2 separate regions of the Homo sapiens genome follow, and region 2 is reported to be linked to region 1. Evidence: microRNA targets listed by miRTarBase, many of them from high-throughput screens and not tested one by one. Region 1 holds a microRNA gene; the other region holds the end of a gene's coding sequence.

Region 1 (4,148 bases):
GCTATTTGGGAGGCTGAGCTGGGAGGATTGCTAGAGCCCAGGAGGTTGAGGCTGCAGTGAGCTTTGATCTTACCACTGCACTCCTGCCTGGGAGACAGAACAAGACCCCATCTCAAAAAAAAAAAAAAAAAAAAGAGATGGCAATGGCGGGCCGTCTGGAATGGCTGCTGTCATCACACTGGCTGCAGCAGGGAGGCACGGCCAGGGCTGCATGCTCCATGTAGCCAGTGGGAGCTGGGGACAGTGGGAACCCCGCCCTCCTGGGAACCACTGCAGCTGCCAAACCACAGCTGATCCTGCTTCATGGAGCAGGTGGGGGCCCCCGCCATCCCCCATGCAGCTGCAGCTGCCTAAACTGCAGCTGTGGACCCAGGCATCCCTGCAATCTTGGGGGCCCGGGAAGGCCCCCCGCCCCACCCTTCAGGCTCAGAAGTGTCTGCTCCCACTGCCTGGCTTCTCCCTCCTCTTGGCGCCCACTCTGATCTTAGAGCAAAGTTGGTGCTGAGCCTGGGTGCTGTCGCAGCCTGGCTGGGTGTGGGCATGCTTGGGGCAGTGCTGACACACTAGACCCCTGCTGCCTTGGCCCCCTCTGGACTTTGGGCACTGACTAGCATGGAAGGAAAGCCAAGGGGAAACTGAGGGCAGCTCGGCACTGGCCTGCAGACGCTCCTTGGCATGAACAGCCTGGGCACCATGAACAGCAGCAGGAGACAGACAGGCTCCTGGGTGGAAGGGGATGGGTCCCTGGTGAGGCCCTACCTTCAAGCCAGGGAGGGCCTCAAGGCTGGGGGCCAGGCTGCCAGTCCCACACACCAGAGTGGGAACTTATGGTGTATTTTCTGGGCTTGCCTATAGCCACCCATGGACCAATCAGTATGCACTTCCTCCTCTCTGAGGCTCATGAAAGCTTCAGGCTCAGCCAGAGCTGGGCAGACATTGGATGACCAGCTGCCGAGAGGAGCTACCCGCTCCAGGGCCTCCTCTCTGCTGAGAGCTGCAGAGATGGCAGAACAACTTGCCTGCAGAAAGGAGCTTCCCATTCCAGGGTCTTCCCTCTTCTGAGAGCTGGAAAGTCGACAGGATGACCTGCCTGCAGAGAGGAGCTTCCCATTCCAGGGTCTCCTCTCTGCTAGCAGCTGAACACTCATCAGGACACCCTGGCTGTGGAAAGGAGCTGCCCCCTGAGGGAGGCTCTGCAGGAGGCTGAGCTGTTCTATCGCTCAGTAAAGCTCCTCTTCGTCTTGCTCACTCCCCACTTGTCTGCATACCTCATTCTTCCTGGTTGCAGGATAAGAACTTGGGACCCATCAAATGGTGGGGCTGAAAGAGCTGTAACACAAACAAGGCTGAAACATGCCCCTTGCTTGCCATGATGCAGGTGAAGGGAAGGAAAGAAGAGCTGCGGCCCTCTGGGGAACCCAGACCTGGGAGCTCCCCAAGCTGGAGCTGTGACTCCCTTTTCGGGGCCCTGTGGTTCCTGGCATCTCGAAGCTTCTGGGTGCCACCGTGTTCCCCGGTGCCAGCTGTGGAAGCTGCTTGTGGTGTACTTGGTCTAGCCACAACCTCTCAGAGAGCTGGCGCCCATGCTGGCACCTGGAGCTGCTCACCCCGCTGCAGCAGCCGGCATGTCTGACTGTGTGCAGTGGCCAGACCCCATGTTCACTCACACACCCTTCACTGTTCCATGCCTGACTTGCCCTGGGCAGATGTGGAACCCAGGCTGGTAATGTGAGCTGAGTGCTGCCTGCCAGGAGGAGTGAGTGAAACAAGCCCAGTGGGCCTGAGCAAAACTTGGGCAAAGGTGCCACCAGCCACAGAGGTTTCCGGCCAGAAAATGACACCCCAAAGATCCTGTAACACCATCTCAAAAAAAAACAAAAAACAAAACCCAGCAACAAAAGCCTGTGAATTCTACCATCTAGAGACAATTGCTGCTAGTGTTTGAACAGATCATCTAGCCTTACTCACCTTAACTGATGGGATGCTCATTACCTGTCAGCACGGCACACTGCATCATTGTCAGCTTGGACCCTGAGAATGCTTTTCTTTAGATAGAGAGGCTCTGTCTCTCCCAGACTGGAGACCAATGTGTTCAGGCCTGGGCTGACCACATCTGTCTGCTTCTTCTCATGAGCATGTTTTTGTTTGTTTGTTTGTTTTCTGAAAATTTTGCCAGAGGCAGGAGGAGGAAAAGAGGAGGAGGAGGGAGGAGATAAGGGAAGGCTGTTGAAGTGGGCAGATGAAGGATGGTCTAGAGCCAGGGTTTTTGAGCTTTGGGGACTTCTTTTTCATTTGCAATCTTGTGTGGCATCTGATGTATGTCAAACAGATAAAAATGGGGATACTGGCTTGAAGGGTGGGGGCCCAGAGCTCCCCCTGACAGCCCCTCCCATGCTCCCTGGATTCAGAAAGTTCGTGGAGCTGGAATCTCATCTGCTCAGCCCATACCTAACTCACAGTGTGACCCTGGGCAAGTTATCTCATCTTTCTGAACCCCACTTTCTCCATCTACCAAGATGAGGGAGTGGGTGGGAGGTGGGAAGGCTGCCCCAAATGGCCTCTAACATCCCTTCCAGTCTCCTCCTCCTCCTCCTCCTTCTTCTTCTTTTGAGACAGAGTCTCATTTTTTTGCCCAGGTGGGAGTGTAGTGGCTGGATCTCAGCTCACTGCAACCTCTGCCTCCTGGGTTCAAGAGATTCTCCTGCCTCAGCCTTCCAAGTAGCTGGGATTACAGGCACGCATGCACCACCATGCCCAGCTAATTTTTGTATTTTTAGTAGAGACGGGGTTTTGCCATGTTGCCCAGGCTGGTCTCAAACTCCTGACCTCAGGTGATCTGTCCATCTCGGCCTCCCAAAGTGCTGGGATTACAGGCGTGAGCCACCGCGCCCAGCCCAGTATCCATCTTCTTCTTCTTCTTCTTCTTCTTTTTTTTTTTTTTTTTTTGAGACAGTCTCACTTTGTTGCCCAGGCTGGAGTGCAGTGGCTCGATCTCAGCTCACTGCAACCTCTGCCTCCTGGGTTCAAGAGATTCTCCTGCCTCAGCCTTCCAAGTAGCTGGGATTACAGGCGTGTGTGCACCACCACGCCCGGCTAATTTTTGTATTTTTAGTAGGGACGGGGTTTTGCCATGTTGCCCAGGCTGGTCTCAAACCCCTGACCTCAGGTGATCTGCCCATCTCGGCCTCCCAAAGTGCTAGGATTACAGGTGTGAGCCACCGCGCCCGGCCCAGTATCCATCTTCTTTGACTGCATTGCGTCAGCCCTGCTTGCCTGCCAGAGGAGTTAGAAACATGACATGCCCGAGGCAGAAACGCCAGCCCTGCGTGCCCTATTTTACTCTGAAGACACAAAGGACCAGAGACAAAAAAAGACTTGCCCGGGTCACACAGACAGGGGCAAGAGTTGGCAAGAGGAAAAATCAGATACTGTGAAAAGCTTCTCAAAGTCTAGTTTTCAAAATATTGAATACCCAGTTCCTATAGAAATACAGTGTGGGAATGTGTCAGTGTCCTCTTGTAGGTTGTTAATGGAGGAACCAGCTGGGTGACAAAGCTAGTTCAATGGATATGGAAAAAAATATATATGTATACCTATATATGGAGACAGAGAGAGTCAGTTAAAACAACAAGAATTCTGGAATATTCATAAAATTGCTAAATTAGATACAAAACTGGTTAGTGTTCTATAGGGCAATAAAATCATCATGTTGGGGCTATCTTCTCTATTGAAAAGAAATCATTTGCATCTCTACTAGACAAAAATAATTTGCAACTTAACAGTTTTCTACCAGTTAACAGCTATCTTTACTGAATCTGGGCTCTAATCAATAGTAAATAATAAGTCAAGCCAAGTGACATTCCCCTAGAGTGTCAGATGACCCTTAGCAGGGTTTGTTAGATACAGCTCTCATTTGACTTTGAAAGGACACCGGTTATCTATTTGCCTTATTTCCAAGTGTTGGATGATTTTACTTATCAGGCTGTTGCAAGAGTATAAACACTTCCCAAGAAATAAAAGACATCGATACTAATGCGCATATCATTAGTGTGAGAAATAAAAGGGTCAGCAATGGCCCTGTGCATGTCACAACAGGGACACCTTCAGGCGGAGAGGAAGGGCATATTCTTCCATTTCTCCAGAGCCCA
Region 2 (4,000 bases), not on the chromosome of region 1:
TGCCAAGAGCAGCTTTAGGAGGCGCCTGAGTGTTATGGCCTTGCCCCGGAACCTCAGGAATCTCGTTCTTGTTCTGCCAAAGGGAATCCCTGTGCTGATCGTGGGGCATCATATCCTGTATGGGAAAATCATCCACCTGGAGAAACCTTTTGCAGTCCTTGTCAAACACACTCCTGGGGATCAGGACTGTGATGAGCTTGGCCGCGAGACTGGCACCCGGTACCTGGTGACAGCACTCATCAAAGACAAGATCCTTTTCAAAACCCGCCCCAAGCCCATTATCACCAGCGTCCCCAAGAAAGTATGAAAGAACCTCGGATTTTCCCTAGAGAGCGGCCAACTCCTTGGACTCGTGCTCCGCTGCCACCTCGAGGACGGCTCGACGGTTCCCTGGGACCACAGGGGGGTCCTGTTCTGAACACAGGCCACCCACTGGGTGTGAACTCGGATCCCTTCCTTATGGCGGCCGGTTCTCTTGGTGGAAATCTGACCCCATTTCCAAGGAACCCATCTCCTTTTCCAGCTTCATCAGGCTCATTGGCTTCAAATCCAGCACCTTTCCCGGCTGGTGCTCGTGACCCAAGTATGGCTTCTTTTCCAAGAGGGATGAATCCCACTGGCACAGGTGCAGTTTCTTTCCCAAGGCCTGGTGGCCTCTTGGGGCCAGGCCCAGGCCCAGGCCCCACCCTAAACCCTAGGACAGGGGCTCTGCCAGGCCCAGGGCCTCTGTCTAACCCCAGGTTAGGGGGTCTCCCAGGACCAGGTCCTATGTCCAACCCAAGGGCAGGTGGTCTCCTGGGAGCAGGTCCTGACCCCAGAGGTGGTGGTCCCATGGGCCCTGGATCTGGACCTAACCTGAGAGCCGGTGTTCTGTTAACCTCTGGGAATGGTCCTCCCAATCCTAGGCCAGTTGGCCTGGGCCCAGGACCAAACCCCAATCTGAGATCAGGCTTTTTAGGGACAAACCCTGCCCCCAGGTCAGGTGTGTTTCCAGGCCCAGGCCTTGGGCCCAACCCAAGACCAAGTGGCCTGGGCCCAGGCCCTAATCTAGATGCCAGAGCAGGTGGCCTCTTGGGCACAGGATCTGGTCTTAACTTAAGAATGGCTGGACCTCAAGGCCTCGATCTTGCCCCCATTCTAAGAGCAGCAGGTCTTTTAGGAGCAAATTCAGCTTCTTTCTCACAGGCTTCTGGAAACATGGGCACAAGCCCATCCTCCATGGCAAGAGTACCTGGCCCCATGGGCCCAAACTCGGGTCCTAGCTCTCGGGGAATTGGCCTTCCAGGGCCAAATCCATCTCCCATGTCAAGGGCTCCTGGCCCCATAGGCCCTAATTCAGCTCATTTCTCAAGGCCAGTTGGCCCCATGGGGGTAAATGCCAATCCCTTTCCCAGGGGAGCAGGTTCATCTGCCTTTTCTCAGTCTTCTGGCACATTGGCATCAAACCCAGCTACCTTCCAAAGGTCCGCTGGCCTCCAGGGCTCAAATCCAACCATTTTCCCAAGAGCCTCTGGGCCACTTGGCCCCAACCCAGCTAACTTCCCAAGGGCCACTGGCCTGCAGGGTCCAAGTCCAACTACCTTCCCAAGGTCTACTGGCCCATTAGGCCCTGGTCAAGTTACTTTCCCCAGGCCAGCTGCCGGGCATCTGGGCCCTTCTCCAGCTGGCCCTGTGGGTATCAACCCAGCTCCTTTCACAAGGCCAACTGGGACCCTGGGTCTCAACCCAGCTTCCTTTCCAAGGATGAATGGCCCTGCAGGCAAGAGTTTCGTCCCATTTCCTAGAGTGGGGAGCCTCCCTGGCACAAACCCAGCTGCTTTCCCCAGACCAGGGGGTCCAATGGCTGCAATGTACCCAAATGGAATGTTGCCCCCTTAAACACCATTTTCCCTCCAGGACCACCTTGGTTTCTAGGCACTGTGGTTCTTGGCAGGGGCTGTCTTAGGTAAAAGGGTAGTTGTGGAGCTACAGTCTGAAGAACATAGCTTGGGCTCAAGTTCAAATGAGCCATCTTTTTCCTTTGCGTTTTTCTTGACTGAAGGTGAGATGTTATTTGTGGCATGTGAACTGTGGCAGGTGGGAATAATCCTGCCCTTGAGAGAAAGGATCTCCAGCCTCCCAGAAGCCTGCTGTGCTTTCGTCCCACAGCTTTCTGCCCATTGTTTCTTACTAGTTTCTTGAATTGTTCTTGTGGACTTTTCCTCAGGGATACATTGGCCTGCAGGTCCCAGTTCACATGTAGTCCCCTGCTCACCATTGGAGAATCAGCTCACTGCTCTCTAGAAACGTGGCGTTGGTGAACGGACCATGCTTCCGTAGCTCTGACCTGGGCAGCTTGGACCTGGTCATCCTCTACTGCCATACCTTTCCCTGGGGGCTTGAACACAGAACAGGGAGATGGACAACCACTTCAAAGAAAGACCCACCGAATGCAGTTTCTGCTTGACTGACTGGGCCTGCAGCTCCCTTCTCCTGGGACTTAGAGGTGGCCAGATTTAAGGCCCCTCTACTCATCCAACTCCCTCTTCACTGGTACTCCCAATCAATCAAAGAACCTCAAAATTTAAACTGATGTGGATGGGAATATGGGAATTAGGGTGGGGGTGGGGGATGAAGGGAAGAAATCACTGTGCTTTGTTCGGCCTGGTGTGCAAGGATGGTTGGTGGTTTTCCTGCATTGTATCTTTTCTTACTGTTTCTTTAATAAATGGGATGAGAGGGCTGCTGGTGTCACTGTGTTTTGTTACCTGTTTCATAGGGAAGGAAGTTTCCTCTGCTTTTCATTGTTTCAGCTTGGCTACAGTCTTACATCATGTCGGCTAAAATGCTTTTGCTCCAAGAGGAAGCAAGCTTTGGTTTTTAGTCTTAGCAAGGGCCCATTCATCTGCCAGTTAGTTATTTCACCAAAGACCCTCTACACTAAAAGTTAAGCCCCCATGGGTGTAGTTACCAGGATGGACATATTGCCCAGGTCTTGAGTCCCACCTGACTAAACTTTCTATTTTAAGTCCCTCTTTGGAAACTGGAATAAAGAGCTAGCTTTCATTAAATACAAAGTAGTAGTTTCGAGATAACCGGCATATGTGAGAATCTTTATTTTGACAAATAAGTGCAGTATAAAAAACTTGACCTGAAAATTAAAAAAAAAAAAAAAAGCAGGTAAAAATAAATATGTTTACAAATTATTGTAGAAACAATACAAAAGAGGATTTGAATTCTCAATGAGGAAAAACCAAAATGCGTCCAATTGTATAAAGGCTCTTCCCTTGCAAGAAACGGGGATAAAGCTGAAGACCCAGTTTGGTTTTGCTGCTGAAAAATGTACAAAATAACTTAGAAAAACCAGTCGAGGTCAAACGTTGTGAGCCCACTACCTGTACCTGCCTGTTTTTGATTTGAGGAAAGTTGACGACCACAGTGCAAGGCAGAGCTGATGGTAGGACAGCCAGGAGAGCCTGTCATCCTACATTAATCTTCAAGTAAATGCTGAAGAAAAACAAGCCCTTAGCGAAGTCTGAACTCTGCACTTGGCTGACCGGATTTCCTCCATTCTAATGCTCAAAATAGTTTAACTTCTTGGCCAGCAGAACGATTGCCTGGATCAGCTGCCTTAGCAAATGCCTGCTGCCTTCCAGCCTTCATGGGTTGGGTCTGATGTCAACCAGCAGTCTTACCAGAAACTCGAGGTCTGTGTGATGTGGCAACTGTTAGCTACACCTGGAAAACCCTTGAGTTCGTGGGAGATGAAGGAAAGCACCAGGGTTTGCCCATCTGTGGCTCAGAGCACACCTTGCGTCTTTGTAGGAAGCACTTGGTACACTAGAGGCTTGCCCTCTTGTCTGCTGTCCACCTTAGTGCTGGTTCTGCACGGGTTAGCTGGCCCCTCTGAGAAAGGACATTTGGAGGGCAAGCAAGCAACCCTTAAGTCAAAGGCTTAGTCAGGATCCCAGGTTTTAAACTCAAAACGCTGAGAACAGCCTGGATTGCAAGTCACTGGAAA

What was found. Region 1 holds the annotated microRNA hsa-miR-6127 (UGAGGGAGUGGGUGGGAGG, at 2,518-2,536, shown strand). A microRNA usually pairs through its seed, bases 2 to 8, with sites in the 3' UTR of a target mRNA and lowers its output. Matches are read on the target gene's strand: a 7mer-m8 pairs with bases 2 to 8, a 7mer-A1 pairs with bases 2 to 7 and ends in A, and an 8mer does both.
Region 2: miRTarBase lists CHTF8 as a target of hsa-miR-6127. Seed matches in the 3' UTR shown: 7mer-m8 at 2,519-2,525.

Annotation. Positions count from the first base shown.
Region 1 is chr1:22,631,716-22,635,863 of GRCh38, reverse strand. It overlaps MIR6127 (microRNA 6127), which reads left to right and starts at 2,498; the gene lies at 2,498-2,606.
Region 2 is chr16:69,116,732-69,120,731 of GRCh38, reverse strand. It overlaps CHTF8 (chromosome transmission fidelity factor 8), which reads left to right. Exons shown (of 4, transcript NM_001039690.5): 4 at 83-2,722. The coding sequence ends at 307. HAS3 (hyaluronan synthase 3) reads right to left here. Exons shown (of 4, transcript NM_001199280.2): 4 at 3,072-4,000. DERPC (DERPC proline and glycine rich nuclear protein) reads left to right here. Exons shown (of 3, transcript NM_001002847.4): 3 at 83-2,722. The coding sequence starts at 304. The coding sequence ends at 1,878. Among named protein-coding and RNA genes, the nearest start is that of HAS3, 13 kb to the right of the region's middle.